Regions from separate parts of the Homo sapiens genome. Here all the other regions are linked to region 3. Evidence: fine-mapped expression QTL. A gene starts in region 3. Each other region holds a variant in brackets. All regions are shown on one strand. Distances are between the middles of the regions.

Region 1 (7,956 bases), 28 kb before region 3:
GCACCTGGCTAATGTTTGTATTTTTCGTAGAGACGGGGTTTCACCATGTTGGCCGGGCTGGTCTCAAACTTCTAACCTCGAGTGATCCACCCACCTCCGCCTCCCAAAGTGCTGGGATTACAGGTGTGAGCCACCACGCCCAGCCATGGATGTCATTTTTAAGTCTGGGAAATTAAAAAAATTCTGGACTCTAAAGCTGTAGTGGAATGTAAGTCCAATTAAACTCTTTCCGATCCTGCAGCTCACCAGAGACCTCAAATCCTTACCTGGAGGTCAAAAAACTTGCTGTAGCGCCGGTAAATGGCCTCGGTGGAGCCGCTGGACCACGTGACCCGGATGATGTAGACCTGCGGGAGCAACAGAGGAGATGGGTGTTAACACCAGAAGGTGGTCTCCCAATCTCTGGGACCCAGGGGGAGCACAAGACTCAGAGTCAGAAAGACGTGGGTTTCAGCCTTAGCTCTGCCAATGACTGGCTGGACAAGTTGCTTGCTGTAAGACTCATCTCCCTCCTCAATAAAATGAGTGTAATAACCCCCAACAGAGTTGTGCAAAGGATGAATGACATCAAGTATGGGGATGCAGTGGCACCACATCAGCTCAGGAGAAGCTGCTGTTTTCGGCATTGCCAGGATTCCTCACTACCCGCTCAGTTCAGTGAGAGACAGGCTGGCTATCTTGCCAGTCATTCCTAAAACCTTGACTTTCATCAGGAGAAGTCACGGAGACGTGCAGCTCTTGGCCATCTTATATCTTCCACAGGCCAGCCCATCATGCTGTCTCCACCGACGAGGACCTAGGCCAAGTTATTTTTTCCCCGAGTCCCAGTTTCTCCTGTGAATGGGGCTAACAGCACCTGCTTCCTCTGCCTCCTCTGCCTCCTCTGCCTCCCAGGATAGATGTGAGGTGCTGATGAAATTAAGGATGAAGGACCATTTTATAAACCAGTGGGCTGTGCTTCCAACCTGTGTCACACGTCACGGCACGCACAGAAAACAATACATTGATAACAAGCCCGGGCAAACTGAGGTGACTATTAGAGGTCAGAGGTGCCTGGCTGGGGCCTTTGGTGGCCCCGGACACACCAGGTAGACACCTAAGGGCTAAGGGATCAGCATACCTGTGACCCATTCCTGGACTGCATAAACTATCTGTTGCTATAGGGTAGTTGTGACAATTAAAATATATGCACAAGTGAAAGCTGTTTGGAAACAAAGAAATGTCATAGAAACACAAGGCGCTCAGTGCTGTTAGAAGCCCTGGGGTTTCACAGGCAGTGTCCCTGTCCTCCATGAGGTGACGGTTAGAAGGAGAGACAATGCATACATAAGTGAAGATGACTGACTCCTGGAATCCTCCTTCCCTACCTTCAGCTCACCCACTTGGATACGGGGTTGGGGGGGGGGGCGCACATTCTCTGTTCATGGTGATTGGTTGAAGGGAGAACATGTGACTTGAGCTGGGCCAATCACAGCCAGTAGGAGTCTGTCCTGGGACTTTTTTGGTTTGGTTTCTTTTTGGAGAGGGAGTCTAGCTCTGTCACCCAGGCTGGAGTGCAGTGACACAATCTCGGCTCACTGCCTCCCGGGTTCAAGAGATTCTCGTGCTTTAGCCTCCCGAGTAGCTAGGATTACAGGCGAGCGCTACCGTGCCCGGCTAATTTTTGTATTTTTAGTAGAGACGGGGTTTTGTCATGTTGCTCAGGCTGGTCTCGAACTCTTGACCTCAAGTGATCCACCTATGTCGGCCTCCCAAAGTGTTGGGATTACATGCTTGAGCCACCGCGCCCGGCCCGCCCTGGGACTTTTGCTCCAACTCTGGAGAAAGCCAAGCTCTTCTCCTGAGGTTGACAGGCTGTCAAGATGTGGAGCTGCTGGGGGCTACCCATCCTCACTGGGGGTGGGGGGGAGCCTGCCTGAGAAAGGAGCCACCATCCCGATGACACAGTCTAAGCTTACATCCAGCTCTGCCTGAAGCTAAATTTATTCCTGGACTGTCCAGTTTCCTGGGCCAATAATTATGTCTTGGGCCACATCCACTGTCTTGAATAACTTTTGTGGCCAGTTCAAGTTGGGTTTCTGACCCACGTAATCCAGTCCAGGTTGATACCGGAAGTGGGCAGGAGAGAGATCTCTGAAGCCTGGAGCCACCACAGTGTAACTGATGGTCATGTAGGATTTAGACAGCAGGAGAGGAAGGCAGTGGCTGTGGGTAGAGGGGAATGAGGGTAGAACAAAGACCAGCTCAGGGTGAAGCCACACTGTGCCTGGCAGCGGTTTCCACAGTGGTTTTAGCCAGAGTCTCTTTTCAAATGAGTTCTTAGGAGAACATTCACATTCCAAACAGAAAAAGATAGAACAACTTCAGGGGCTGGGGCCAGACACCAGTGTGAATATCATGGACTTATAGGAGAAGGTTCTTCAGGTGAGAAGAGACGAAAAATGTTAGGATAAATCAGGACAAGGTTGGAGGTGACCTTGAATGCCACGCTAAGGAGTTCACCTGGCATGGCCTCATCAAACCCAACACAGATTATATTTCAAAACATGGCAGAAATGGGGGAGCTTGGGCTCTAGAGTCAAGAAGCTCTGGACTCACACAATTTCCTAACTCCTGGAGCCTCAGCTTTCTTATCTGGTAAAATGGGGTCATCAAGCATACAGAGTTGTGATTAGCACAAGAGGAAAAGCTCTGAGCACCTTGCCAGGAAGACAGAAAAAGTTCATGAAACCTCAGCACCTTGCTCTCAGACCACCCAATGCCTACCCCATCCCTGCTCACAAAAACAGGCTCCTTTGACACCAAGGATTTGGGCATCCAGCCCACCCTTCTTCCTTGTTTGCGCTCCCCGTTCCTAGGTAACTCATGGAGCCAGGGAAGGGGCCACGGCATCCTTTAGGAGGTAAGAGTCAGTCATCATCTCAGAAAGGCGACTTTGTGATGTGAAAAAACGCTCAACAGTCCTGATGTTTTACTTAACAAGAAGACTTCAAATCTGTTTCTTAGCTTTCCACCCTGCTTCACCGAGACTCCAGCATGGAGATTTTGAATGGTTTCCATTCATTCACTCATTCAGTCTTCAACATCTATTAAGCACCGACTGCATGCCAGGCCCTCTGCTAGGGGTTGAGATACTATGGGGAGCAAGGCAGACCCAGACCCTGCCCTTGTTAAGTGGAGATGGGCAATAAACCAGCAAACCTGCCGACATGCTGGGCAGGACCCCGAAGTCTGCATGAGGGTGGTAGGTGGAGGGGCTGGCTACTTGGATAAGGGGGCCTTGGAAGGGAAGCCTATCTGAGGAGGCAACCTTTGAACTGAGATCTGAAGGGTGAGGAGCTGGTCGAGAGCTGAGGAAAGGGCGTACAGGGAAAAAGAAAAGTGGGAACGAAGATGTGGCAGCAGGAAAATGCTCGCCTGTGTGAGGAACAGGAGAGTATGACAGCTGACAGTGCTGCGGGAGGAAGGGGCTGAGCGGGGGAGGAGGCAGCAGCTGATGACGAGGGGCTTGCAGGCCACAGAGAAGCGTCTGGATTTCATTCTACTGAAGAGCTTGAAGGGGTGGGGGAGGCGTGCGACAGGATCCAGGGTACACGTTTAAAAATATCCATAGGTATCCCTCCAGCTGCTGTGTGGAAACGGCTTGAAGAGGGGCAGGGACACCAGTAAGGCATCTTTTGCACCACTGACAGGAAGTTAGAGCTGGAGCGGACCAAAGAATGCAGCTCATTGAAGGGCTGCACCTGCCAGATGGGTAAACTGAGGGTCAGAAAGGGAAAATACTGTACCAAAGGTGCCCACCACTGGGGATGCTTAAGCTAGGTTTGAATGACTGTCAAGGACACTGCCAACAGGGATTAAAAAACAAGGAAAAATTGTCAAAGAATGGATTTTTTTCTTAAAACCAACAAAAAGCACACTCCCATAGATGGAAAAAAAAATTCTGCTTACACAATTCATCCTTGATCTCTTGTTTACAATTTTTAAAGTTCTGAACATACAGT[G/A]CAAGGACTCTGCAGCAAGCCTAATTGGTTTATTGGAATCAACCCCTGAACACAACGTGATGTCTGCATTTTTAGGCAGAGACCTAATTTTTTAACGAGAGCTGCCCTAGCGTAGGGCTTTGTCCCCGTCCTGGGTTTGGGGGCTGGTGAGAGAGCACACACCCTGGGTCACAGAGCCAGCTCTGCTGCTAGAGAAACTCACAAGGCATTCACCTCTCTGGCCACCCACCCTTCTCTCTAAAACAAGGACAATAATCTCCCTTGAGGGGTAAGCCACAATAGCTAACGGAGATGGGGCCAACACCTGGCACGCACTAGGAGTGCAACGTTCAGCTTCCCTCACAGTGGTCATCCCATGTTCCTGCTTGTCTAGTACCTTCCCCTCCCCTCCTTTTGGTAACAGAATCCTGACTTCCCACGGGGAATCCTTCCTCTGGTCTTCATGAGGGGAGTGGGCATGTCTCCCTCCCAGGCCCAGCCAACCACAGCCCTGCTGATGAATGATGGCTCAGGGATGGGCACAAGACGGATGAGAACCAATTCCAGGACTTTTGATGGCAGTCTCAGGGGACAGACCATTTTGCCCACTCAGTGGCTGCTGGGAGAACCTACACCAGGAATTTCCCATGGAAAGCGCCTGTCACACAGAAGAAAGCAGAGCCAGAGGGAGAGAGGAGGGCTCAGACCCCGTGGCAACATTTGAACCCCTGGATCCAGCCTGAATCCGGGACATTTCCCAGATGCAAGACAAAACAGTCCTTTTCTTGTTCACACCAGTTTGATTTGGTGTCTGTTACTTGCAACCAGTGCAATCCTAACACAGTAGACCTTTCCTTTTTTACATCCCCAACCCAGGTAATACTTAGTAGCTTGGTGCCAAGGAATTAAAGACTTCCTCACAGTGGCAGTATTCACAAGAGGCCAAAGATGGAAACAACCCAAGTGTCCATTGATGGATGCGTGCATAAAGAAAATGTGGTTTAGACATAAAATGGGACATCATTCAGCTCTAAAAAGAGAAAATTCCGACACATGCTACCCTATGAATGAACCTTGAGGATATTAGGCTATGTGAAATAAGCCGGTCACAATAGAACAAATACTGTATGATTACAGGAGGTACCTGGAGTAGTCAAATTTATAGACATAGAAAGGAGGATGGTGGTTGCCAGAATGGGTAGAATGGGGAGTGGTTATTTTTCATTCTTCTGAGATGAGGTCTCGCTCTGTCACCCAGGGTGGAGTATGGTGGTGTGATCATAGCTCACTGCAACTTCAAATTCCTGGACTCAAGCAATCCTCCCACCTCAGCCTCCGAAGTAGCTGGGACTACAGGCATGTGCCATTATGCCTGGTTAATTTTATTATTATTATTTTTTGTAGAGACAGGGTCTTGCTTTGTTGCCTAGGCTGTTATCGAACTCCTGGCTCGAGTGATCTTCCCACCTCAGTATCTCAAAGTATTGGGATTACAGCCGTGAGCCACCATGCCTGGCTGGGAGTTGTTGTTTAATGGGTGCAGAGTTTCAGTCTAGGGAGATGAAAAAAGTTCTGGCGATGGATGGTGGTGATGGTTGCTAAGAAATGGCTGAAATGTTAAGTTTTATGTTGTGTGTGTTACCACGATTTTTTTTTTTTTTTTGAGATGGAGTCTTGCCCTATCACCCAGGCTGGAGTGCAGTGGGGTGATCTCGGCTCACCGCAACCTCTGCCTCCCGGGTTCAAGCAATTCTCTGCCTCAGCCTCCCAAGCAGCTGGGATTACAGGCGCCTGCCACCATGCTCGGCTAATTTTTTGTATTTTTAGTAGAGACGGGGTTTCACTATCTTGGCCAGGCTGGTCTTGAACTCCTGACCTCGTGATCCACCCACCTCGGCCTCCCAAAGTGCTGGGATTACAGGCATGAGCCACCGCACCTGGCCAAAGAAAAATTTTTTAAAGCAGATTTCCTGCAGAGATTTACATACTGCATGTCATGTGCCCTGGAAATGACTAAAACTTTCTCCATGGCACAGCCTTCAAAACATGAGCTGCACATCTGAGAAACAACTTCTATGCAGAATACATTTCTTGAAGTCTTGGTTGTAAGGAAACAACCAACCAGATTACAAGATGGACAAAACTTAAAGAGACACTTCATGCAAGAGGACATATGGAGGGCAAGGAAGCACATGAAATATGGTCACTGCCACTAACGAGGCAAAGTGAAACCAGGAGGAGATGCCACTACCCATCTGTCGGAATGGCTACGATTAAAAAATAGCGACAATAACAAGTGCTGATGAAAATGCACGGCAACTGGAACCCTCATGCATTGCTGGTGGGGAAGCAAAATGCCACAGCCACTCTGGGAAGATCCTCAGTGGGTGCTGAACCACCAGGTGAAAGGCTGTTGAACAGGACACTCACACGGTATCAAAGTATAACCCCATGATTGCTTTCCCAGCCAGGGGAAAAATGTGTAACTCTACAACTTAACCAGGTTACCAAACCTAGCCTCATGGATAGAGGGACAATCCAGTTACTGTGTGGCCCTCCAGGTGATGCAATGTGAAGTATACACAATCTGCTGTTGGTATTGTTGCCAACAATGTTTAACTTGAGCTCGAGCTCTTGACCTAGGTTCTAATTTACAACAAATATAGGAGGCAGAGGAACAAGATAAATGACATCATAAGGAAGCAGACAGATCTGGAATGGGCAATGTTCTACAAGTCAACTAGCAGGGCACAGCTCAGATGCTACTGCCTCCAGAAAGCCCTCTGTGACCGCTCCCTGCCCACCAGTATGAGGTTGGGTGCCCCTGCTATAGGACTCCTTAGCACCCACTTTCCCATCACAAAGCCAATGAACGCTTTACTGAAATTGCTCAAGTGTCTGATTTCCTGCTGGGTTCTAAGTTTCACGCGAGCAAGGACCTGGCCTGTCTTGTTAATGGACTGCTGTATGCCCAGCACTGGGCAGGGTGGAAAAATCTAGGCTTCGTGAATAAATGGGGAAGAAAATGAGATGCCAGGAGGCCAAGCCCTCACAGAGAGGAGTGCTTCTCCTTGGCAGGCCTTTGGTCTGTAGAAAGGGACCCTGGCCATGTTGCTGAGGTGGTCCTGCCCCCTTGCTTTTCCTCTCTGTCCCCTGTGCTGCTTCACCACAATCTGCAAACACCCCCGCCCCTTGGGAGCAACATGTTTTGGGGGAGCAGCTGGGACTGCTTAAGGAACAAGGAAGCACAGAAACCACAACTGGGGTTAGAGAGTCACGGAGGTTTTCTTCTGTTCCCAGACAGGATTTGAGCCGGAATCATCTACCCTTTAAATCTCTTCTTACACAATCTCAGCAGCAGGGCCTGTGTGATCTAACCAAGTCCAGACTCTCCAACCTGATTGCAAACCCAGTTTCACCAGGAACAGAAGTCCCGGGTTTCCTCACTTCCTCTAAGTCAGCGAGAAGCCAAACTGGTGGTGAAGGGAGGGTGGGAGGAATTGGGGTGGGGTGTGCTGAGCCAGGATCCTTTTGCAGGTGGGTAGATGGCTGAACTTGGTCTCTTCCAAATCCCCGAGCCAGCAGGCCAGGCTAACACTTCCCATGTTTTCCCAGCAAAGGACGGAGGCTCAGAAGTACAGTGCCTACAGTTGCACAGCTATGACGTGCAGAGCAGGGACTCTAACCTAGGTCACCTCTAATCCTGCCATGCCATGCCCCAGCTTGGCTGCAGCTGGAGCATGGGCCAGCAGGGAGATGTCTGCTCACCCTCCTAACTGTCAGAGTGACCAGTACATCATCCTACTGTTCTGCGAGGCTGTGGAGTTCTAGGGTCACAATGGCCTCGATTTATATCCTGCTTCCTTCTCAACTAGCTTTGTGCTCTTGGGAAAGTGGCTTAACCCCCATGACTCAGTTTCCTCATTTGTAAAAAATGAGGTCTGCAATACTACTAACTGCAAAGTTGGGGCGA
Region 2 (7,956 bases), 41 kb before region 3:
CAGGAGATCGAGACCAGCCTGACTAACAGTGAAACCCCCTCTCCACTAAAAATACAAAAAAATTAGCTGGGCGTGGTGGCGGGCACCTGTAATCCCAGCTACTAGGGAGACTGAGGCAGGAGAATTGCTTGAACCTGGGAGGTGGAGGTTGCAGCGAGCCGAGACCGCGCCATTGCACTACAGCCTGGACAACAAGAGCAAAACTCTGTCTCAAAACAAAAACAAAACCAAAAACACTCAAAACACTAGAACTTATTCCTCCTATTTAGCTGTGATTTTGTTTCCTTTTACAAATCTCTCCCTATCTCCCCACTTCCCCCTACCCTCCCCAGCCTCTAGTTATCCTCTGTGCTACTTTTCACTTTATGAGATCAACTTTTTTAGCTTCCACATGTAAGTGAGAACTTTATGTTCCTGGCTTATTTCACTTAACATAATGTCCTCCAGTGGCATCTATGTTGCTGCAAATGACAGGATTTCCTTATTTTTGATGGCTGAATAGTATTCAATTGTGTATGCATACCACATTTTCTTTTTCTTTTTCTTTTCTTTTCTTTATTTTGAGACAGAATTTCGCTCTTGTTGCCCAGGCTGGAGTGCAATGGCACGATCTTGGCTCACTGCAGCCTCCGCCTCCTGGGTTCAAGCGATTCTCCTGCCTCAGCCTCCCCGGTAGCTGAGATTACAGGCATGGGTCACCACACCTGGCTAATTTTTGTATTTTTAGTACAGACGGGGTTTCACCATCTTGGTCAGGCTAGTCTTGAACTCCTGACCTCAGGTGATCCACCTGCCCCGGCCTCCCAAAGTGCTGGGATTACAGGCATGAGCCACTGTGCCCGGCCCATACCACAATTTCTTTATCCATTCATCTGCTGATGGGTACTTAGGCTGATTCCACACCTTGGCTGCTGTGACTAGAGCTGCAATCAACATGGGATGTATTATCTCTTAGATATACTGATTTCCTTTCCTTTGGATAAATGCCTAGTGGTGGGATTGCTGAATCATATGGAAGTTCTCTTTGCAGTGTTTTGAGGAACCTCTACATTGTTTCCCATGGTGGCTATACTAGTTTACGTTCCCACCAACTGTGTGTAAGAGTTCCCTTTTCTCTACATCCTTGCCAGTATTTTAAACATGTGGTTTTATTTGTGGTTTTGAGTCATTGTCCCCTGTTCTGTTGCCTGGTGAGGTGGAAATGCTTGGTCCACTGTCATTCAGAGACAGGTGAGGCCACAGTGGGGACTTGCTGGAAAAGGCAGCCTTCTTTTTGTGAATCCAAGAGCTCTTCAATGCCAGCACATAGTAGATGCTCAATAAAAACGGGCTGAACTTGATGTCGATGAAGAGAGGTTGTGAGTGGCGAGGACAAGGGGCTATGCTCTGTACTTTCCAGTCAATTTTTCTGAGAACCTAAAACTTCTCTAAAAACTAAAGTTTACTGATTAAAAAAAAATTGGCTGAACCAATGAACGCAACTGAGCAAACGCTTTGGGAGGCAACTTCAGGAGATGTTTGCTAAGTAACTCTGAGGAATAATATTCACATTACTAATACTAAATAATAATTAGTAATCACAACTAACACGTATATAACAGTTCACAGTGAACATGTCCTCTCATATACGATTTCATGTGACCTTGACAGTAACTCTGTGACATAAATGTTACATTCCCCTTGTCACAGATGAGGTAACTGAGAAGCAGAGAGGGCAGTGAACTTGCCTGAAGTCACACAGCTAAGTGGTGTGTCCAGCCAGTCCATGCATCTTTGTCTAAATTCCATTCTTTTTGCCTAAGACCACTCTTTGAGGCAGCTTCAGAGTGTCACGTGAACACAAAAGTCAGCCTGAGATGAGGTAAGTTTAATATTCTGTGCACATGTGAACAGCATGCTTTCTTTTCGAAAGCAGAGCCATTAATCAGTCTCAGCTGTGGAGTATGTTAGAGATTTATAGGTTTTTGCCTAACACTATCTACTTTTTCCCTTCTCAATTTTATTTGTTAAGACAATGAAACACCATTAAAGGGAACTTTTTTTTTTTTAAAGAATGCACCAGTAATCTGTCCACCCTAACATGACTATTTCCAATCTCCGGGTTCCTTTGGAGTCCCTGCCTGAATGTACATGTCAGCCAATGAGTCCCTGCCACTGCTGTGTTTTTCAGTCCTCAGAGGGGTCTCTACTGCCTGGTCTTAAGAAGCTGCTCTCTTGCCCTTTGTCCTGACTTGATTTTACCCAGATCAGCATGGCCCAAGGAGCTGAAAGGCCTCCCTTTGTTTTATTTGTTGGAGGTGGCAGATCTGGGTTTAAATACTGCATAGTCTAACCACAGACATGACTGCTGGGGACCCAACAGCCCTGGGGTTCAATCCTGATGCTTCCTCATGCCAGCTGTGTGTCTTTGGCCAGACACTTCATCCCTGAGCCTGTTTGGCCGTCTGCAGGATGAGGGACGCAGCCTGCTCCGCGGCGGGGCTGGGTAAATGAGTGCTATGTGGAAACTCTGGGGAGCACACCAGATGCTCAGCAAGAAATCCCCGCTCCTTACACTCTGCCCATATTGAATATGTTATTTTGAAAGTTATTTGGGGATAACTTTTAGTAGTCTGTAAGGCTGTGTGGTTTTTTTTTTTTAATCGTGTTAAATATACACAAGAGAAGATTTACCATTTCAACCACACTTGGGTGTACAGTTCAGTGGCATTCAGCACATTCACAATGTTGTGTAAACATCACCACCATCCATCTCTGGAACCTCTTCATCATCCAAAACTGAAACTGTGACTCCCCCCTCTCCCTCCCCCTGGGCCCTGGCAACCACTACTCTGCTTTCTGCCTCTATGAATCTGACTGCTGTAGCTACCTCCAATAAGTGGATGACACAGTACTTGCCCTTTTGGGACTGGCATATTTCACTTAGCATAAGGTCCTCAAGCTCCATCCATTTTATAGCATGTGGCAGAATTTCCTTCTTTTTTAAGGCTGAATAATATTTGATTGTGAGGCTGTGTTTTAAGGTTGGCAAAAAACCCCTCAGGACTGCCCGGGTGGCCCCGTGGCTGTAGCAGGGCTGTCTGCTGGCACTTTCTGCCATCATGGAGGTGTTCTACATCTTGCTGTCCAATCCAGTGGCCACTAGCCTCCTGGTAGCTATTGAGCAGGTGAAATGCTGCTCCTGCAACTCAGGAGCTCAATTTAAAAATTTTCTTTAATTGACTTGAATTTACATTTAAATACCCTCATGTGACGAGCAGCTGCCATCCCGGACAGTGCAGGGCTGGACTATCACAATATCCTCCTATTTAAACCACATCCAATTTTATTTCGTTTTCTTCATCACTGTGTCCAATGTCAACGGCCATCTGTGAGTTTGCTAGTTGCAAAGACTAGGACTCAGGATAAGATGCTGGGGGATTAGAGCCCTGCAAGCTTTCCTTGCCGAGCTGGTCTTGGTGTGTCCAGGTTTACGGCCACCAATTGCATCTATGCAGAGAACTGTAACACTAGGCATCCAAAGGCCTTGAAGTAGGTTCTCCAAGGGACCAGGCCCAGGCTGTCTGCAGCAGCAGGAGCAGAGGCATGCTCCTCAAAGCCTAACCCATGTCATCCTTGGTAATGAGAAAACCCACTACCCGCGCTCCCCCCAGATAACAAAAGAAGTGGCGCTCAGGGTGAGGAGGACTGGAAACTGAAGAGGAAGATGAGTCATTTGGGGAGTAGGAAGGGAGAAGGAGTCACATCAAGTTGCCACATCACAGGCTTCCAAGAAGAAAGAGAGAACACTCCATCAGCAGTTTTCAAGACATCAGCTTGCGGTAGAGGGAATGCGAGACACGCTGTCCAAAGAACACGCCATGGAAGCTGGCCACCACACGTGGTTTGCGTTAGCAGCAGCCATTGAGGCTGGACTTGGGAGGGGTTTACCCCCTCAATATCACAAAACCCCCAAGTCCCAGCGGAGCCGGAGCAGGAAGTGGAGAAAGGCCTGGGGCCATCATGCGCAGCTGCAGGCTGGCAGAAAGCCACAAGGTCCTGGGGCAGGGCTTTCAGGGCCCTGAACACAACGGTGTCCCTGGGCCTAGTCTACCATCTGTGGTTTGTTGTCTTTGAGGATTCTGGCCCCTCCACGAGCTGGTCTAAATATCAATGTGTCTGGTGTCCTGATGGACGTGC[T/C]GCACGGAGGCTGCCACCACCTCCGGTCTGTCCGCTTCTCTCCATACTTACTGCTCCCCCTAAGTCCAGGCCTGTATTTTCTCAGTTCAACCCCCTTACTACTGTTGGCCCTCTCTTCTGCCCCACTACCTCCTCACTGGTACACGGTAAGCACCTGTTAGATATTTGTGCAAAGAACAAATGAGTAAATGAATGAATGAATGAATGAAAAAACAAATGAGAAAAAGTGGTTAACTGGTTTGGTCAGCCACTCTCTGGGAAAGGAAAAATTACATACCAGGTGGCAGCAACAGGGCCTGGACCTGAGTTTAGCTGCAACTGCCCAAGATAATCATGCCTCTTTCTATTTTAGAAATAAAGAATTGCTAACTGTGTGGAAAAAGGCAACTACGGTATTTTCCCAGTGACACACCTTCCATATGGTAATAGCTTTTAGTGGGAAGGGAAAACTATTCCATTTAAGTATGCACAACACGTTGGAGGCATACTCCAATTCCAGAAGATAATGTCTGGGAGAAAAAGTGTGTCTGAGGATGGAGTAAAGGCAGTATTTGGATAAATATGGTTGGTGGAGTCTTGGGCCAGATGTTGGCTGGGATCTTGCTGGGAAGGCTTCCCGGCCAGGCAATGCCTGCCTAGGGAGTGAAAACTCTTCAGTTCTGCCATCCCCTAGACCTGTCCTCAGAAAAGCTGGAAGAAAACCCTCCCTTCCCTTTGGCCTCTGCAGTGGAGCATGGGGGCTTATGGGCAGATAGTCTTAAAAAGTACACTTGGGGCTGTTAAACTCCCAAGAGGGCCGAGGTGGAAGGACCAGGGTCTTAGAAGGAGACAGGTCAAGGCCGGGCGCAGTGGCTCACGCCTGTAATCCCAGCACTTTGGGAGGCTGAGGCGGGTGGATTGCTTGAGGCCAGGAGTTCAATACTGGCCTGACCAACACGGCAAAACCCCATCTCTACTAAAAATACAAAAATTAGCCGGGCATGGTAGCGCGTGCCTGTAATCCCAGCTACTCCGGAGGCTGAGGTGGGGGAATCGTTTGAACCCGGGAAGCGGAGGTGGCCGTGAGCCGAGATCGCGCCACTGCACTCCAGAGCGAGACTCCATCTTAAAAAAAAAAAAAAAAAAAAAAAAAAAGAAGGGGATGGGTCAGTCCTAGCTCAATGGAAACTGGAAACAAGCGGTTTTTGCTGCATGACTTGGGACAGTCTCTGGAGAGACAAAGGCATAGATGGAGATGCAGCCTCCACCTGTGATTTGAGGCGTCCAAGAACTGCTCGAGCCGTAAGCCCCTGAGCCTAGCAGCAACGCTCTGGCACAGCGTGCGGAGCAGGAGAGGAGCCAGAAAAGCTTCTCTGGATCTCTGCAGCATGAACTTCCCCGTAGGGAGTGTTCCTTCTTACAGATGAGGCTGGCATTTCTCCCGAGGGCTCCTTCACGGGCAGAGTGACTCAGCTGGTTCTGTGCCCCCCTGCCAATGTTGGAATTCTGGAAGATGCCCAGCTAAGACTCCTGCTCCATTGCACCTCTGCACCTTTGCACATGAGGTGTCCTCTGCATGCAATGCCCTCCCCCATTCGGTGGAGGGGCCACTCCTTATTCATTGTCAAGACCCTGCTCAGATGTCACCTCCTCCAGCAAGTGAGCCCTGTCTGAGCTCCCTGGCTAGGAGGGAGGTCCCTCTGTGAACACCTGGATTTCTCTCTATCTGAAAGAACATGTGCCTATTCCCACTACACTGGAAGCTTATGGAAAGCAGAGATCCATCTGGGTCCCTTGTGGCAGCTCGAGGTCTAGGTTAGCAAATGTTTAACTGCGCCTTCTGTGAGGGAAGCCCTGGCTCCAGTGATGACCATGACCCTTGGCCTGGGGGACACAATGAACCAGTGGGAACTCAGAAGACAAAGGTTGCACGGTACAGTGTAGAGGGGCTCATGTTTTGGTCAGAACTGCCCTCTGTGGATAGACTCTGCCTGTATCTTAGAGGGAGGAGCCAAATGGGCCTTAAAAAGGGGCAGCCATAGGCAGGACTCTATGTGGGTAAATCTATCTTTCAATAGGCAGATTGAAAGGCAATCCCGGGGCCCAAGGAGGCAGGGAGGTTAGGAGTGCAAGTTTCAGATCCAGCCACACCTGGGCTTGAATCCCAGCCATGCTGCTTTCTGGGCATGTGACTCTGTCTTTCTGAGCTTCAGTTTCCCCATCTGTGAAATGGATACAATACTGACCTCATGCCTGTGAGGACAGAATGAGATGGCATATAAGATGGGCATCTGGCACATTCCAGTTAGTGACTGCCGATATTGTTACTATGTGGCTCAACCCAGCCACATTTCTGCTAGGCACTACCCTCAGCTCTCTGGGCACTCCAGTCATCCCCAGTGCTCTGCCTGGATGCCAATTTCCTTTGCCACACTGATGGACTCCCCAGAGTAGTCCCAAGCCAGGGCAGAAAGGGAGAATCAGAGAGGCTGGGTGACCATCCCAAGGCCGCACAGCTGGTAAGACAGAGGGAAGGACCCGACACCAGGTATTCTTATTTCAAGCCCAGGGCTCTATCCCATTTCCTGCACCCTCAGGTGAATGAGACGTGTGGTCAGATGTCAAGTAAGAGCATCAGGCATCACTATCAGGCCCTTCTAAGGTAAGCAAGTCAGGAAACCAAGTTGGAAGGTGAATCTTCATAAAGGGGAACTTCCAGCCGGGCGCGGTGGCTCAGGCCTGTAATCCCAGCACTTTGGGAGGCCGAGGTGGGTGGGTGACTTGAGTCCAGGAGTTTGAGACCAGTCGGGGCAACAAAGCAAGACTCCGTCTCTACAAAAATTTAAAAAATTAGTCAGGCGTGGTGGCACACACCTGTAGTCTCAGCTACTCGGGAGGCTAAGGTGGGAGGATCACTTGAACCTAGGAGTTTGGGGCTGCAAGTGAGCTGTGATGGCGCCACTGCACTCCAGCCTGAGTGACAAAGTGAGACCCTGTCTCTACTTTTTTTTTTTTTTGAGACGGAGTTTCGCTCTTGTTGCCTAAGCTGGAGTGCAGTGCACGATCTTGGCTTACTGTAACCTCTGCCTCCCGGGTTCAAATGATTCTCCTGCCTCAGCCTCCTGAGTAGCTGGGATTACAGGTGCCCACAACCACGCCCAGCTAGTTTTTGTATTTTTAGTAGAGACGGGGTTTCACTATCTTGGCCAGGCTGGTATCGAACTCCTGACCTTGTGATCCGCCCACCTCGGCCTCCCAAAGTGCTGGGATTACAGGCGTGAGCCACTGCGCCCGGCCTCTACTTTTTTTTTTTTTTTTTTTAAAAAGGACCTTTTCATAGAGACTGTGAGTCTCTCTCTCTCTCTCTCTTTTTTTTTTTTTTTTTTTTTTTTTTTTTTGATATAGGGTCTTGCTCTGTTGCCTAGGCTAGAGTGCAGTGGCACAATCTCAGCTCACTGCAGCCTCGACCTGCTAGGCTCAAGGGATCCTCCCACCTCAGCCTCCCAAGTAGCCTGGGCTACAGGTGCGCACCGTCACACCTGGCTAATTTCTAAATTTTTTGTAGAGATGGGATCTTGTTTTGTTGGCCAGACTGGTCTTGAATTTCTGGGCTTAAGTGATCTGTCTGCCTCAGCCTCTCAAAGTGGTGGGATTACAGGTGTGAGCCATCACACTCGGTGACTGTGAGTCTCTTTTCCCACAAGGGAGCCTGGGTCATGCTCCAACTCCTCAGTGGCCTCTCTGCAGACTGTTTCCTCTGCCTGAATGTCCTGCCCCCGTTGGAGGGGGCATATTGTT
Region 3 (7,956 bases):
AACGAACTGGAGCTAGCTGGATCGACATAGATCTCAAAAGTGCTTATTTATAGTTTTAAAACATTCACGACAATACAAGATTTTAGGGAATGTTAAAAAGGGAAAAACATTAAAAGGTCCATGGGCTGTGGTGGGAAGGGGATTGATGGCAAATGGGCGTGGGGGATCTTTCTGGGGATGATGGAAATGTTATAATACTGCATTGTGGTGACGGTTGCATAGCTCTGCAAATTTACTTTAAAAATAAGTGAATTGCACACTTACAATGGGTGAATTTTATGGTATGTAAATTATACCTCAAGAAAGCTGTTAAAAAAAATCCTATCTATTAGTCTATTTTTTATAAGTGCATGGGAATGATCAACATCAAATGCAGGATAGTGGTTTTATGGGGGAGGGGCAGCATCGGGGAGGGCGTCCGGGGGGTTTGCATCTGCGATGCTTTATTTCTTAAAAATAAAAACAAAAAAGTTTTGAAACAAATTGGCAAAATATAGAGATGTGAAGACTTGGAAGGTATATAGATATAGATAGCTATTTTATTCTATGTATCTATATATGTGCAGAATATTGTATTACTATATTGAAAATATACCCATTTGAAAGGGACCCAGTGCCCCGCTCAGGTTACCGAGGACACTTTGACCACTGTTATTCTTGCTGCCATAAATATTCCGACCATCCTGCTCCTCTTAACATTTAAAGATCTTGAGACAGAGCAGGCCAGCATCTCCAGGCTCCTGCTGCCGAGACACTAATGCTTCTGTACATCCCTCTCCAGTGCGGGAAATGGGGTGATCCAAATAAAACCCACAAATCCTACCTGGAGCTCTTCTTCCTCCCCCCAAGCTGAAGACAAGCTAGCTGGGGAGGGTCTCCCAGGATGTCACCCTCAAAAGCCCCTCTCCATTCATCCCCAAGCCCTCGGGCTCTAGTGCAGGAAAGATGCTGGCAGAGAAAGGCAGGAGCTCCCCAAATCTTCATCTCCCTGCTTCCAACAGAGGGCAGTGGCTCCAGGGAAAGGCTCTCCAAACAATATCATGGTTCATTGTCATCAGCCTCTCAGGATCTCACAGGCACCTGGAGCTTCTGGCCCTGCATTCTCCAGACCTGGCCTGTGGCTCTGCCCCTGGGCCCATGGATGATGTCTCTGCCTGCGGGTGACTGAGGCTGGGGCTGGAGAGGACGCCATTCTGATCATGGAGAAGGCACCATTTCAGAGGGAGCAGGTGGCCCAGCCCTGATGGGCAGCCCTGAACTCCGGGTGCAGTTCTCCAATGACATCTACAGCACCTGTGACCCTGTCCCTCACAGGCAAGTGAGTGATGAGCAGGTAGTGGCCGAGATGGCTGCAAATGGGGAGAGGGGTAGTGGGAAATTAGGGGGCGTAGTGAAGAGGACTCTCAAAAACTGACTTTATAGTCTATGGCGCAGTGGCTGGGGTGGGAATGTGTGTGGTGCTGCCCCCTAGAGGACATGCAGCAATCAATGCCTGGAGGCCTTTTGGGTGTCACAATTGGGAAGGGGGATAACTAGCTGGGTAGAAGCCAGGGAAGCTGCTAAACATCCTGCAATCCACAGGACAGCCCTGAAACAAAGAATGATCCAGCCCCAAATGTCAAAAGTGTTGAGTTTGAGAAACTCTGCCCTTGAGGGATGTAGCAGTATTTACACAGAAGCTAGAGCTCAGAGAGGCAAACCAACCAGTCCGAGGTCACACAGCAGAAAAGTTCAACTCCCCAGCTGATGCTGTCTCTCCAGGGTGGCTTCAGAAAAAGGGATACCAAATGGGAGTCAAAGTCCAGGCCTGCCAATAGCTGCCTTCATGCCCGCTCTTTCCAGATTGTGTGAGGGGTTGGGGTGGAGCTTGGGAACAGCAGCGGTCGCCCACCACAGGGATCTGTTTCCATTGGGTTTGGCCCCCCTGCCATCAAGGCAGTAAATGTTCTCTGTTCCTGTGGATGACTCAGGCTTCAGTTCAGCCCATTGCCCCTCCTCATCTGATGAACCCAGAAGCCTGGGCTAGAAGGGAGAGGGCCTCTTGAATCACATGAGTGACTAAAGCCACATGCAGAAAAACAAGTTCTTGATGAATCCCCCTACCATGTGACTTTGGCATGTTCCCAATCAGTGACAAGATACCTCAGGACAGGCAGGCAGGGAGCTATGCCTTTAGGGCATTTAGGAATGCCCTAAGGCAGCCTGTCATGCGGCTGCTACCTCTAGGAAATGGACACCACCATCCCCATTACACAGATGAAAAAACTGAGGCTGAGGTGACACAGCTACAACCTGGGAGGCCAAGATCTGAATCCCAATCTATGTTTTAACATAGAAACTTGTCTCAGGGGGCCCCCAAAAAGTGGCTGAAAGCTTCAAAAGACGGTTCTCAAAGCGCAAAACCTTCAAAAAACTGGCAAGGATGGAGCTGACACAGCAGAGAATGAAAAGCTTCCAGGTTTTCACTAATGATAAGAGAGATTTCCCAGTTTTTCAGAGGACTTTGCTCAGAGAAACTATAGGGGTACCGGATGTGGGAAGTGGTGTGGTCCTTTTGGGGTCCAGCGGGCCTGGATCTACATCCCTGCTTGGCTCTTGACTGTGACCTTAGGCGTGGGACCTCACTTTGCTGAGCCCTGGTTTCCTCATCTGTCAAATGGGCTTAAGGCCCTCTGCCTGATATGGGCGTGATAGGAGAGGCCAGAAGAGGGCGCGTGGACGATGATGGCCGGGCCTCGGTGGCAGTATCTATTCTCGTTTTTGCCAGCTCACAGACCTGGTGGGAGGTGGCATGGAGAATTCCAGACTTCCTCCAGTTGCCATGTTGGTGAAAACTGTCTTCATGCCAAAGAGGCAAACTCACTTACACGCTAACAGGCTCAAACAAGAAACTAAGATTTGGCAGCATTTGAAAACAGTTAACAAAAAATAAAAAAAGGAAGGAAAAAAAAAAGACAATTTAGCTCAGCTCTGGAATCAAGGGAAACTTCACTCTATATAAAGATGCCACAGGTCCAGGAAATAGCTTCCCACCGCCTGGCTAAGGGCTGAATAACTGGCTGCCCAGCCAATAACAATACAGACTCACACAGCACACCCTTTCTTGTGGAGAGCGCGGAGTGGGTTCCCGGCTATCTCCTTTCAGAATTTCACAGGCTATTCACGGAAGGCATGCAGATCTACTTTGTAAGAATTAGTTCTTAAAAAAAAAAGATCTGAAGACGACTTCCAGGGAGGCCAAGGAGCTTAATTTAGCCAGCCAACGCCCTTTTCTATTCATTGTTCTATACTTCTTTGTTAGGATTTTTTCCCTCCCTCTTACTCTTTTTCCCTTCCTGGTTAACTTCTCTGCAGCCAGGCTCCGCCACTGCCCACTTCTCACCGCCAGAGACACTATAGCCCCCTTCCCTGCTGTAATGAGGCCCTCCCCAAGGCCTCATGTGGGCCCATCACCCCACATCCCCTTTATCTCCACCTAGAACCTGCGAGGTGGTCCCAGGGCCTCCTGAATCTGCAGACGTGTCCCCTAGGTTGCTGCGGAAGCCACTTTCCACCTGCAGGTCACCGTCAGCCCCAGGCACCCCTGCTGGAGGGAGGGAAGCCCGAATGCAGCTCTATGTTCCAGGACCTGCAACCTCTGAGCCTCAGCCTTCCTATCTGCAAAACGACGCTACTGTCCCATTTTCTCAAGTCCTTGCCAGCTCCAAACAAGATTCCCATGTTCCAGAGGGAGATGCCAGGAGAAAACTTTCGTACATTTTAAAACAGAAGTTACTGGAGAGAGGGGGCAGGGGATGTTTTTAACCCTTTAAAGGCGTAGCCACTCAAATGATCCATTCCCAGAGATCTCCTCCATCGCCCAGGCCGGCTCTTGCCAAAGAACGGAGTCAAATTCGGCGAACCCTAGAGGGGCTACCTGTGGCTGGGGACTGCGGGTCTGCGCGCCTCTGGACAAGGAGGGGCAAGGCGGGCGGCCTGAGAACAGGCACTTCTGTCTCTCCCGCTTTCTGTCTCAGACCCCTCACCGGCTGGAGCCAGACTTTTCCACAGATGAGCAGGACGGGAGTTGGGGGGACACGGAGAAGACAGAAAGGGGTAGAGGAGCCGCAGGGAGGCGAGTAGGGGGGCGAGGCGGGAGGAAGGGATGGAGGGGGAGAACGAGGCAAAAGCGGGGAGGGGAGGGGAGGGAGGGAGGAGGAGTCGGGAGGGACCCGGGCAGCGCCGCCGCAGAGCCGAGGGGAGAGCAGGGGAGGAGGGGACGGGAAGCGCTGGAGGCAGAAGTTTTCCAAGCCGGGGGCCCTCGGTCGCCCCCGACGGGGCGCGGGCTCAAGGGGGCGTGGGGGCCGCGCCGCACTCACATAATGCTTGTTGGGCACCCGCCGCTTCTGCACGTCTAGCACCTTCACCTCCACGATGCTGCGCCGCGGCGGCATGGCCGCTCCTCCGCCCGCAGCGGGCCGAGCGCGGGTGCGGGTGGCGCGGGGTGCAGGGAGCGCTGGGGGCGCGCCGCCGCGGGCAGGGAACCTGGAGCTGAGCGCAATCGCAGCCGGGGCCGAGCACGAGCCGCCGCCGCCACCGCCGCCGCCCTTCGCTCGGCGCGCACTCCAGCCGGGCCCAGCCGCCGCCGCCCGCCCCCGGCCCGCCCCCCGCACCGCCCCCCGCACCGCCCCCCGCACCGCCCCCCGCGCCGCCGGCCCGCCCCCCTTAAAGGGCCCGGCCCCGACCCCCGCCCACCGCGCGCGAACCCCGCCGGCCACGTCCGGCCCCCGCCCGGCCTTTGTCCCGGTGCTGAGCCGCCGCGCCGGGGGAGGGGACTGGACTGACCCCGTCGCCCGTTCACTGATTGACGTATCGATTCATTCCAGCACTCTCGCTCCGGCAGCCGCCATCCACCGCCAGTTTGGAGAGCCGGACACCCGGGTTCGAATCCCGGCTTTGCCGCTTTTCCACTCTGTGCCCTCGGCAAGTTGCTTAACCTCTCTGGGTTGGGTCTCTTCGTCTATAATATGAGCCTAGTAGTACAAGCACCATGTTTGTCTTTTTGTGTCTGGCTTATTTCACTCGGCATAATGTCCTCAAGGCTCATCCATGTTGTAGCACGTGTCAGTAGTACCGCCTGCCTGCCGGTGCTGCGCCCGGGATTAAGTGCATGTGAAGCCATTCCGCAGTGCAGTCCATGGTATGAGTGCTGGCGTTCCTAAAGCCACCCCAAGCCCTGGTGATTCAGGAGGAGCAAGAGACCCGTGACCAGGTTCCCCCAGCCTCAGTCTGGGACATGGGGAGTGAGGGAGAGAAAAACTGCAACAAATGCGCATACGTGCAATGTAATTGCCATGGAAGCAACAAAAGGGGATAAAAGGGTGGTGACTATGTGTGAGGGGCAGCTGGGTGCTTGTTAGCAAGGCCATCGATTTCCAGTTGCGGAGCACTTAACTGCTCGCTGGGCCCCGTGGCCCCTGCTTTTCACAAATGCTGTCTTTGCATCCTCAGGCAGACTCTAGGAGGAAAAGGTGTTTTTACAGAGGACGGCCTCCAGACATTTGGACATTTCCAATGAGGCCTGAGGACCCTCTGACTTGGGAACTGTACTTCAGAAGAATGTGCCTTACAGGAATTACATCAGTGAAGGTCCAGAGTCAGGGAGCCGGTGGATGGAGCCCGTCACTGCCTGGCTCTAGGTGGATCTCACACGTTGAAGCTGCCGTGGCTGGGGCAGCTCCTCGTTTCTTCATCTAGTGCCTCCTAGCACTGGCTGGGCACTGAGTCACTTTCAGGAGATGTTGGCTGAATGAATGGATAAATGAATATATAATGCATGGATGGGAGGTTTAGGCTCCTGGCCAGTGTTTTCACAGCCAGTAAGTGGGGGCTCTTTTCAACAAACCGTACGACTCTTCTCCATGCCACGACAGAGCTACTTCCCACCCCGGTCCAGGATCAGCCTTTGGAAAAGGGTGGGCTTATCCAGGGTAGGACGGCTCTCAGCCTCGGCCAGGCCACGTGGATGATTTGGGCTGATTCACTTTGGATCCGCCCCTCCATTTGCTCCTCTGACTTCCTTGCCAGACTTTACCATCCTGCTCCAGCCCCAGAGGCTGGCCTGTGTGGATTTCACTGACAGCTCTCTGTCCTGGTCTTCCTGTTTGGCTTGGCCAGTGGAAGGGCCTGGCAGGAGATTGAGGGCAAGAGGAGAGAGGGAGGTCTGGGTATTTAATCCCTAAGCCCCTCCTCCCCGATTGTTTTTACCAAAGGTGCCCTTTCTCACATGGTCTCTCTCAGGGTTCCTGAAGCCACTTTTCTGCTCAGGACAGTGACAGTCTTGCTGTTGCAAGCCCTGGGTACTACGCCATCCTCGGTGCTTCCTTAGCCCCGCCCACACCCGTATACATTGACCCTTTACTAAACTGTCTTCATGGACCCAGCTTGAGGGTGGCATCTGTTCGGTGCCAGGACCCTCACTCATGTAATTCCTGTAAGGCACATTCTTCTGAAGTACAGTCCCAAGCCAGAGGGTCCTGAGGCCTCATTGGAAATGTCCAAAGAAGTGAAGGTCTGCTTTTCCGTCCCTGCCACATCGTGCATTGCCTTATTAGGAGCCAAGCCTTCCTAAGAAGGCAGAAGCTAGAGGCCCTCTCTGAATCAGCCAGCTTCCTGGGTTTTTCCGGAGAGGCAGAGAGACCTGCCCCCAGCCACACCATGGGTGGCAGAGGTGGGTCCTGCTGGCTGTGTCCGTCTCCTCTGTCTGGGGAAGACAAAGGTCCCCCCACAACCACCAGTAGCAGAAGATGCTATCCCTGCATCTTTACGTATCTTTCCTTTGTTTTACTTTTTTATTGTAGTAAAAAATACATAACATAAAATTTAACATTTCAACCATGTTTAAAGCATACAGTTGAGTGGCATTAAGTACACTCACATTGTTGTGCAACTGTCACCACCATCCCTCTCCAGAACTTTCTCATCTTCCTAAACTGGAGCTCTGTCCCTATTAAACACTGAGTCCCCCCCCACTGCCCCCCAACCTCCTCCAGGCCTTGGCAACCATTGTTCTACTTTCCATCTCTATGAGTTTGACTATGCTAGGTACTTCATATGAGTGGAAACACACAATGTTTGTCTTTTTGTGTCTGGCTTATTTCACTCGGCATAATGTCCTCAAAGCTCATCCATGTTGTAGCATGTGTCAGAATTTCCTTTTTATGGCTGAATAATATTCCATTATATGTATATAGCACTTTTTCTTTATCCATTCATCTGTCAACAGTCACTTGGGTTGTTTTCATCTTTTGGCTATTCTGAATAATGCTGCTGTGAACATTGGTATAAAAATATCTGTTCAAGTCCCTGGTTTCAATTCTTTTGTGCATATACCAAGAAATGGAATTGCTGGATCATGTGATACTTCTATGTTTAATTTTTTTTTGAGGAGCCCCTAAACTGTCTTCCACAGGGGCTGTGGCATTTCGCATTCCCTCAGCAATGCACAAAGGTTCCAATTTCTCTACATCCTTGCCAACACTTGTTATTATCTGTTTTGTTTGTTTGTTTTGTTTTGTTTTGTTTTGTTTGAGAAAGAGTCTTGCTCTGTCTCCCAGGCTGGAGTGCAGTGACGCAATCTCAGCTCACTGTAACCCCTGCCTCCTGGGTTCAAGCAGTTCTCCTGTCTCAGCCTCCCGAGTAGCTGGGACTATAGGCGCCCGCCATGCCTGGCTAATTTTTGTATTTTTAGTAGAGATGGGGTTTCACCCTATTGGTCAGGCTGGTCTCAAACTCCTGACCTCAGGTGATCCACCCCCCTCAACCTCCCAAAGTGCTGGGATTACAGGCATGAGCCACCGCCCCCGGCCTTGTTTTGTTTTTTAAGAGACAGGGTCTCATCCTGTCACCCAGGCTGGAGTGCAGTGATTTTGATCATGGCTTACTGCAGCCTTGATCTCCTGGGCTCAAGGGATCCTC
Region 4 (7,956 bases), 69 kb before region 3:
CAGAGGCTATGAGCCTGAATGGCAGTTCAATCCTGTAAGCCCAGGAGGACTGGAGACAAAGGTGCTTTGAGACTATTTCCCCATATTTCATGATGGCGACACAAATTGGGAAATGCTTACCAGACACCAACGCCAAAGACACTAAGAACAAAAACATTAGCCAGCACGAGCGAAACACCCCAAATTATCAGATTTATATTATTCTGTATCTTTATGATTATTTTCAAATTTATGAAACTGTGTCTTGGCTCCCGTGTTGGTAAGGCATTCCCTTGTGACATCCGATTCAAAGGTTTACTGTTGCCTCTTACAGTCTCCCTTCACTCCAAAACCACGCACTTCTGTGCGCTCACTATGAGAAGCTGTGTTTACTCGCTCCGTGCTCGTCACAGGAAATGGTGCATATTGGGATATATTTATTGCAGAAACTTAGGTCTACTCATCTGTGTGCTAGCAAACCATCAGTCCTGAGTGGTGTACTCGGAAGTCTGTGAACTCGATTTTGGAGGTCGCTGTGTGTGTGTATAAATATAAATGGCCTGACTTCACTTGTTAAAACACTTTCATGCTTTCTCCTCACAAGTCTATTTAAAAAATTTTTGTGATTCCAGCAGATCATTTCCAAAAGGGAGCATGTGTCTTTCTCTCTTGATACACATACAGTGCTTGGCACACTGCCCGCCACGCTGGCTGCTCAGCAAACTCAGCCTTGGTTACGGCTGCTGCCTGGGGCATCCAGCGAACGCAGCGCCAAGAGCAGCAGCATCTACTTCTGGAACAGAGCCTGGCTGGTACTTTTCAGCCCTTCTCGAATGAGCCCAGACGGACCCCAAACTCTGCCCGCTCTTGCTCCTGTGACCCCAGGACACTCCCAGCACCTTGGGCTGATCTCTTTTCCCCACTGCTATTTCTCCGTTAGCCAGATCCCTTCCTGCTTTCCCCAAAGCACCCGGGCCGGCCAGAGTGTTGGTGCGTAAGTGCGGGTAAGCAGGCGGTGCTAGAGTTTTATGTGGTGTGCACTGTGTGGCTGGGGCTGCTGGCTGTGTAGCGACAGGCGTCTGGGCAAGTGGCCTGTCCACTGCAGGGAGAAGTGACAGGGAGGCAGGGCTGTGGTGGGCATTTTGGAGAGCTTCGGAGCCTGGCTGGTCAGGATGAAATCCCGGCCCCGTTGCTCACCGGCAGTGGGGTCTTCGTTGGTTTGGGTTGCTCCCGCATTCACATCCCTGGCAGTTCCCGAGCACACCCACCTCCACCTCTGTGGACAGAAGCTAGATGAATCTACGGCTCAGCCCCTGCCTCACGGGCTCAGCCTGCTCAGTTCCGACACACCTCGATAAGTGCTGTGGGCAGGTGGAGAGTATGATGGGATGACAGGAGTGGCACTCAGCCAGTTTCCTTCACCTGTCAAACGGACGATCGCTACCCACTTACAGCAACTCTGAAGGCTAAGTGAAGTGCGGTCTCACAGGGGCTCAGCCGACGAAACCCACTTTTGGCTGCACTTTGCTTTACTTGGGGGTGGCTGGACTGGCAGGAGGGAGGGCTGTGGGGCTCCATCTGGGGAAGCCCACAAACAAACTTACTCTTTGGGGGGATTCAGGTCCTCAGGTCTTGTCTCAAAGAACTGCAGCACCTCATCACACTGAGAGATGTAGGGGGGCAGCTGGATGAGGGCCTGGAGAAGAGAGACGCAGGTGAGTGCAAAGGAGGAGAGGGGGCTGAGCATGGTGGCACGCGCCTATAATCCCAGCTACTCGGGAGGCTGAGGCAAGATAATTGTTTGAACCTGGGAGGCGGAGGTTGCAGTGAGCTGAGATCGCGCCACTGCACTCCAGACTGGGTGACAGAGCGAGACTGTCTCAAACACACACACATACAAACACAAAAGCAAACCCAAAAAGCAAAGGAAGGAGACGGGTGTTAGGAATGCCATATACCACCAGTGGCTCTCAGACTCGGGAAGGCACCAGAATCACTTGGAGGGCTTATTAAAACACAGATCGTGGAGCCCCACCCGAGTTTCTGATCCAGTAGTTCTGCGGAGGGGGCTGAGGATGTGCATTTCTAAAAAAGTTTCCTGGTGATGCTGCTGGTTTGGAGAACAACACACACACACACACACACACACAATGTATGATATACACGCATATATTATAGGCATATTTGTTCAAGTAATATGTCCATATTTAGGCAAAATCAGACCATACTGTACATGCTATTTAGTAAACCTATGCTTTCACTTAGCTATAAATTGTCAACTTCATGCCATTTCATTATTCTTATTTATTTATGTTGAGACAGGATCTTGCTCTGTCACTCAGGCTGGAGTGCAGTGGTGCAGCCTCGGCTCACCACAACCTCTGCCTCCTGGGTTCAAGCGATTTTTGTGCCCTAGTCTCCTGAGTAGCTGGGATTATAGGCATGTGCTACCATGCCTGGCTAATTTTTTTTTTTTTTGTATTTTTAGTAGAGACAGGGTTTCGGCATGTTGGCCAGGCTGGTCTCGAACTCCCGGCCTCAAGTGATCCACCCACTTCAGCCTCCCAAAGTGCTGGGATTACAGGTGTTTGAGCCACTGCACCTGGCTCATTTCATTATTCTTCTATAACATCATCTATACTGGATACTGGATTTTGTACAGCTGTGTCATACTTTATTCAACTCGTCTACTGGTGAATCTTTAGGTTATTTCCAACATGCTCACATATATGTCTTAACTCACGAATCTGAAGCATTAAAGTGAAGGGACTGTTTTATGATTTGGATAGAGGTTCAAAGTCTCCAAGTTGATGAGGGGTTGAAACAGATCTTCCACTGGCCAAATTCCACATTAATCTGCCCCAGTGACTCACTGGCTGTGTAGCCCTCCACAATGCTGGTTTATTTACTAACCTCCACAAAGCTGGTTTATCTACTAACAGGTATTCATTCAATGATTCAATGAGCAAAAATTTTCTTTGTGCTCAGCACTGCACTAGTTTCTGTGCCAAATACAACAGAAGTGCAGGGTACACTCTGCTCGTTGAAGGATCCGAAACTCAGACATGGCCATCATGAATAAACAGCTCAGTTTAACAAATATTTACTTAAGCCTCCTTTGGCCCGGGCCCTGGACCAGGGTAATGAGGATGCAGATCTGAGGGTGGTTCAGGTGGTTCACGCATACATTTTGTTGCACACACCTGTGCAGAGAACACGTGTGCATATGCATGAATTGCACAGGTGATTCTGCCAGCCAAGCTGCCCAAGCAGTGCGTGCTCTGCATGAGGCTGGACTCTGTTCTCTCCTAGAGGGCCTCAGTTCCCTGGTGCCTCTCATGAGCCTTCTCACCATGCTGAGCCTGAGTCTCTGGGGTCTGGGGATAGAAGAGATGTGTCTTGCATTTCCTTTCTTTCTTT[CT/C]TTTTTTTTTTTTGAGACAGAGTCTTGCTCTGTCACCAGGCTGGAGTGCTGTGGTGCTATCTTAGCACACTGCAACCTCTGCCTCCCGGGTTCAAGTGATTCCCCAGCCTCAGCCTCCCTAGTAGCTGGGATTACAGGCGCACGCCACCCCACCCGGCTAATTTTTTATATTTTAGTAGAGATGGGGTTTCACCATGTTGGCCAGGATAGTCTCGATCTCCTGACCTCGTGATCCACCCACCTCGGCTCCCAAAGTGCTGGGATTACAGGCGTGAGCCACTGCGCCCGGCCTGTGTCTTGCATTTTCTATATAACCAGCCCTTAATAGCTCACCACCCAACTCCCAAAGTGATGTGCCGACGCTGCAGCAGTACTGGGCTCTCGTGGACCAACGGAGAGATGAATGGAGGCCTCCAGTGTGGCACCTTTTACAGGGCTTTGGGGATATGTTGACCCTACACAATTATTTCTCCCATTAAAAAAATTAAATTGTGGTAAAATACACACAGTAAAAAGCTTACCATCTTACCCATTTTCAAGTGTACCGTACGGTGCATTAAGTATTTAATGCATTCACACTGCTGTGCTACCAGCACCGCCATCCATCCACAGAACTCTATTCATCTTGCAAAACTGAAACTCTGTACCCATTAAACAACAACTACCCTTCCACCCTCCCCCAGCAACCACCATTCTACTTCTGTCTCTAGGGATTGATGATTCCAGGTAGCTCATATAAGTGGAATCATACAGTGTTTGTCTTTTTGAGTCTGGCTGATGTCATTTAGCATGCTCATCCATTCAAGGTTCATGCTTGCAGCAGGCGTAAACACTTCCTTCCTTTTAAAGGCTGAGTAATATTCCATTGTCTGGATACACCGCATTTTGCTTATCATTCACCTGTCGATGGACACTTGGGTTGCCAACCCTACATTACTTTGAATCAGGCTCTAACTTTAAGTCCCCGAGCTGCAATCTGCTCCAGACTCAAAATGGATAAACACATCATGAGGGACGTGGATGGTCTAGTAGGGCACCTTCCCTGGTCACTGTCCACCCTTCCACCCTTCTGAGGGGTGACTAAAGGGCTCACCGATTTTTAAAATTAGCCTTTAAGTAGCTCCTGCTCTGCAGCAAATCCTTAAGGACTGTTTCCAGAGTTGAATCAGGGAGTCCCAGAGACAGGAGCAGGCCCTTCCCTCCCTCACCTCCTGTTTCTGGTCCCCCTTCTTTTTCTGGTTCCAAGCAGTGAGTGGTCATTCTCCTGGCCTGGATGAGCTGCTGTCTGCTCCCCCCTCCCCATGGGCCTCTTTTTCCTCTGAAATCCTGCAGCCCTTGCAGTTGGAGCCACATAATGAAGGAGCTGATTATATGCTGGACTGTGGTGTGTCCTGGCTGCTTTGTGTGCAAATATCTTGTGGCTTCCCCCCAAGACTACAATAACAGCACTCCTCGACCTTGGCTTAGCACTGGGAGGCTCCTGAAACGTGTTCATCTGTGTCACTTTATGTAACCCTGGGAAGGCTGGCCCATTTAAGAGATGGGGAAATGGAGGCTCTGTTGAGGTGGCTTGGTCTAGAGAGTCCAGGAAAGGCTGACTGCAAACCTCTACCTTAAATCCACAAAAGGCGGCAGGGTGGCAGCTGTTCCTCCTTCACCTTCCCTACGTGCCTAGACAGTGCTGGGGAGACCCTAAATAACACGAGGCAACAGCCCGGAGCTGGCCATGTGTCTCTGCTAGAGGAGACTTGGGTGGGTGTGGGGAATGGCCCCTGGAGGTGGTCACTGTCTCTGCCTGGAGGGGGCCTCCCAGGATGGGCAGAGGCCCCAAATGGACCAGAAGGGGAAGGGACAACGAGGCCCATGGAAACCTCCTGATGATGCCAAGTTCTCTTCTGGTTTTGAGCTATGCCTAGGAAGTAAAAGCCAAACCAAACCCCTAAACCATAAAAGAAGTCAAGTTACTAATAAAAGGCAGGGCTGAATGCTTTGATGTTGGCCCATTTCATTTGGGATGGACTTGGCTACCAGTAAAAAATGACCCGGGGCTGGAGAAACCATTCTGCTTCTGAAAGACTCCAGGATAGTCCTAAGTCCTGTCAGTAGTGACAAAGAACCACAGCTCCAGCAAACTCAGTCCTGTTCTGGAACGGATCCTGGCGCTTTGGACAGATGTGGCTGATGCAGGCACGAGAGAGGAGAGCAAGTCCTGCTTGCAGAGGGTAACAATAAAGGTCAGAGAGAACCAGCTCCTGACTCTGGCCTCGTCACTTCCTGGCTGTGAGATTCTGGCCAAGTCTCACTGCCTCTCTGAGCCTCAGTCTACTCATCTGTAAAGCGGAAATAAAGAACACCCATCTTGGAGGGCTGTGCTATAGAATAAGTGAGGAAGTGGTTGTATGGTTTCCATCATATATTAGCTGCTTGATGGACACTGGATAACCCTGTTGGCTCTCTATACTGTCCCAGGTACAAGAATATAGTGTTTCCAAAGGCGATTTCAGAGGCAGCCAGATGATTATGTTAAATGACAATATCTTGGCTAGGGAGAAGGTTCATGTTTTCTCAATTCTCTTTCAACCCTCTTTAATTTAAAAAAGAATGCCCCAGAGAAGTAACACTTGTCTAACTTGCTTCCTGAGAGCAGGACGGGCTCTGCAGAGCCTCCGGTAGGCAGGTAACAGCAGTTAGCCAGATTTAAAAACGTTTTCTGTTGTTGTTGTTGTTTTATTGTTTTTATTTTTATGGCAGGCACATGATACCCATTTGTTTTGTTTTGTTTGTTTGCTTGTTTTTGAGACAGGGTCTGGCTCTGTGGCCCAGGCTGTAGCACGGGGTGGGATCTCAGCTCACTGCAGTCTCCACCTCCTGGGCTCGAGATCCTCCCACCTCAGCCTCCTGAGTAGCTGGGGTTACAGGCGTGCACCACCACGCCTGGCTAATTTTTGTCTTTTTAGTAGAAACAGGGTTTCACCACGTTGCCCAGGCCGGTCTCAAACTGCTGGGCTCAAGCGATCCACCTGCCTCGGCCTTCCAAAGTGTTGGGATTACAGGCGTGAGCTGATACCAGTTTTATGTTATGGTTGTGATATAAAGTTTTCTCGAAGACATATTGTTTTCAGAAGTTCAAAAAGTCAGGAAGCCCTCAGCACAGTAGGCAGCAAGCCAGTCTCATAATCTGAAGAAGTTCAAAAAGTGAGTTGAAGAAAAATATGAATAATAATATAGGTGGGTGGTGTATGACAGAATTCCAGAAGGGAAGTCTCAAGTGACTGGAGCCTGGTAAATACTACTGTTATGTTGCCCATAGTTTAAAATACTACAGCATGGGCACACACACTCACAAGTGTGTATGTTTGCATGTGTGTTCCATTTAAGCTACACCGTATGATGCTTAGTTACTACCTGAAGTCCCCTCATTGAGAATGAACACTGGTGCAAGTGAAAGACTCTAATCAGAAGTCCACACTTCAGAAAAGGCTGCTTCAGGGCTTTAGCTGTCTTCATTGTGGATCAATGCCACAGCCTTTATTCATTAGCTTAACTGTTGTTAGAATTTTTGTTTTCTACTGGTGAAATGTTCCTAGAAATATTCTCAGACACTCTGGCCCTTGCACAAACAGAACCTGGTGAGCCCAGTACCGTACACCCTTCAGAACGGGGCCCTGGGTCTAGGATTTAGGGTTCAGCCTCTTCTTGAGGATTTTACTGTCAGACCACGGTTAGGATGAGCTGATCCTGCCTCTAGAATGTGGTTGCATCTGCCTTGAGGAATCATTCATGCAAAGAGATGTCAGACAGACAACTGGGATTTCAAGGAGCTTCCAGAAAAACTTGAGTGGCTATTTATGAGGTGGCTTGATAATAAATACTTGTATGTGTGACAGGATTCAGCTAAGTCATATTTTCATTGTGTCTTTTGATGAACAGAAGTTCTTAAATTTAATGTATTCAAATAAACCAATCTTTTTGTGCTTGGTATCCTTTTTGTATCTTTAGAAATCCTATACCTAGAGATTATAAATATATTTTCCTAATGTTATCTCCTAAAACATTTTGTAATATTGCCTCTTACATTTATGTCTTTAATTTTCTTGGAAATGATTTCATGTGTGGTGTGAGGCAGGGATAAGTTATCTTTTTTGTTTTTTTCCCATGTGGATACCCATTTATTGAGGAATGATCTGCAAGGCTGCCTTTGTCAGTATCACAGTGCCCATCCAAATACACATGGATCTGTTTCTGGGTTTTCTATTTGTTTCAAGAGTCTGTCTATCCGTGTGCTAATACTGCACTATGTTAACTACTGTAACTTTACAATAGGTCTGGTAGAGCAGAAAGTTTCTTCCATTGTAATATAAACTTGGTAGCTAAATTTGGGGTATCATCTATAGCTCTCATCTATCTCTATTAGAGACCTTCATTTTCTACTAAAATAAAGCTAGTTATGATAGATCAAATTGGCTTCAGTTGGTTCACAACAATGTCAGTAACAGATACCCAAATGTCATGTAACAGCCTATGTAGTCTATAAAAGAAAGGGATCATTTCATCAG

Alleles and levels. Positions count from the first base shown, and alleles are read on the strand shown. Sizes are in standard deviations (SD) of each study's normalised expression. Not every link is listed here.
For the expression in esophagus muscle of the gene that starts at base 4,606 in region 3, allele A in region 1 goes with a higher level than allele G (moderate effect, 0.40 SD a copy in GTEx).
For the expression in fibroblasts of the gene that starts at base 4,606 in region 3, T is the high allele of the variant in region 2 and C is the other (small effect, 0.39 SD a copy in GTEx).

The links. PIP is the estimated chance that this variant, and not a neighbour inherited with it, causes the effect.
Region 1: its variant is fine-mapped to the expression of SH3PXD2B in esophagus muscle (GTEx, PIP above 0.99). The same link has a PIP of 0.9 or more in gastroesophageal junction, lung, sigmoid colon, skeletal muscle and subcutaneous fat.
Region 2: its variant is fine-mapped to the expression of SH3PXD2B in fibroblasts (GTEx, PIP 0.98).
Region 4: its variant is fine-mapped to the expression of SH3PXD2B in whole blood (INTERVAL, PIP above 0.99).

What each region holds. Positions count from the first base shown.
Region 1 is chr5:172,422,150-172,430,105 of GRCh38, forward strand. It overlaps SH3PXD2B (SH3 and PX domains 2B), which reads right to left. Exons shown (of 13, transcript NM_001017995.3): 2 at 267-347. Among named protein-coding and RNA genes, the nearest start is that of SH3PXD2B, 28 kb to the right of the region's middle. The variant G/A (reference allele first, on the strand shown) is at 4,005.
Region 2 is chr5:172,409,171-172,417,126 of GRCh38, forward strand. All of the region lies in intron 2 of SH3PXD2B (SH3 and PX domains 2B), which reads right to left. Among named protein-coding and RNA genes, the nearest start is that of SH3PXD2B, 41 kb to the right of the region's middle. RefSeq lists an enhancer at 3,531-4,032. The variant T/C (reference allele first, on the strand shown) is at 4,180.
Region 3 is chr5:172,449,920-172,457,875 of GRCh38, forward strand. SH3PXD2B (SH3 and PX domains 2B) reads right to left here and starts at 4,606. Exons shown (of 13, transcript NM_001017995.3): 1 at 4,359-4,606. The coding sequence starts at 4,433. RefSeq lists an enhancer at 3,572-4,093.
Region 4 is chr5:172,380,453-172,388,408 of GRCh38, forward strand. It overlaps SH3PXD2B (SH3 and PX domains 2B), which reads right to left. Exons shown (of 13, transcript NM_001017995.3): 5 at 1,584-1,675. Among named protein-coding and RNA genes, the nearest start is that of SH3PXD2B, 70 kb to the right of the region's middle. The variant CT/C (reference allele first, on the strand shown) is at 3,400.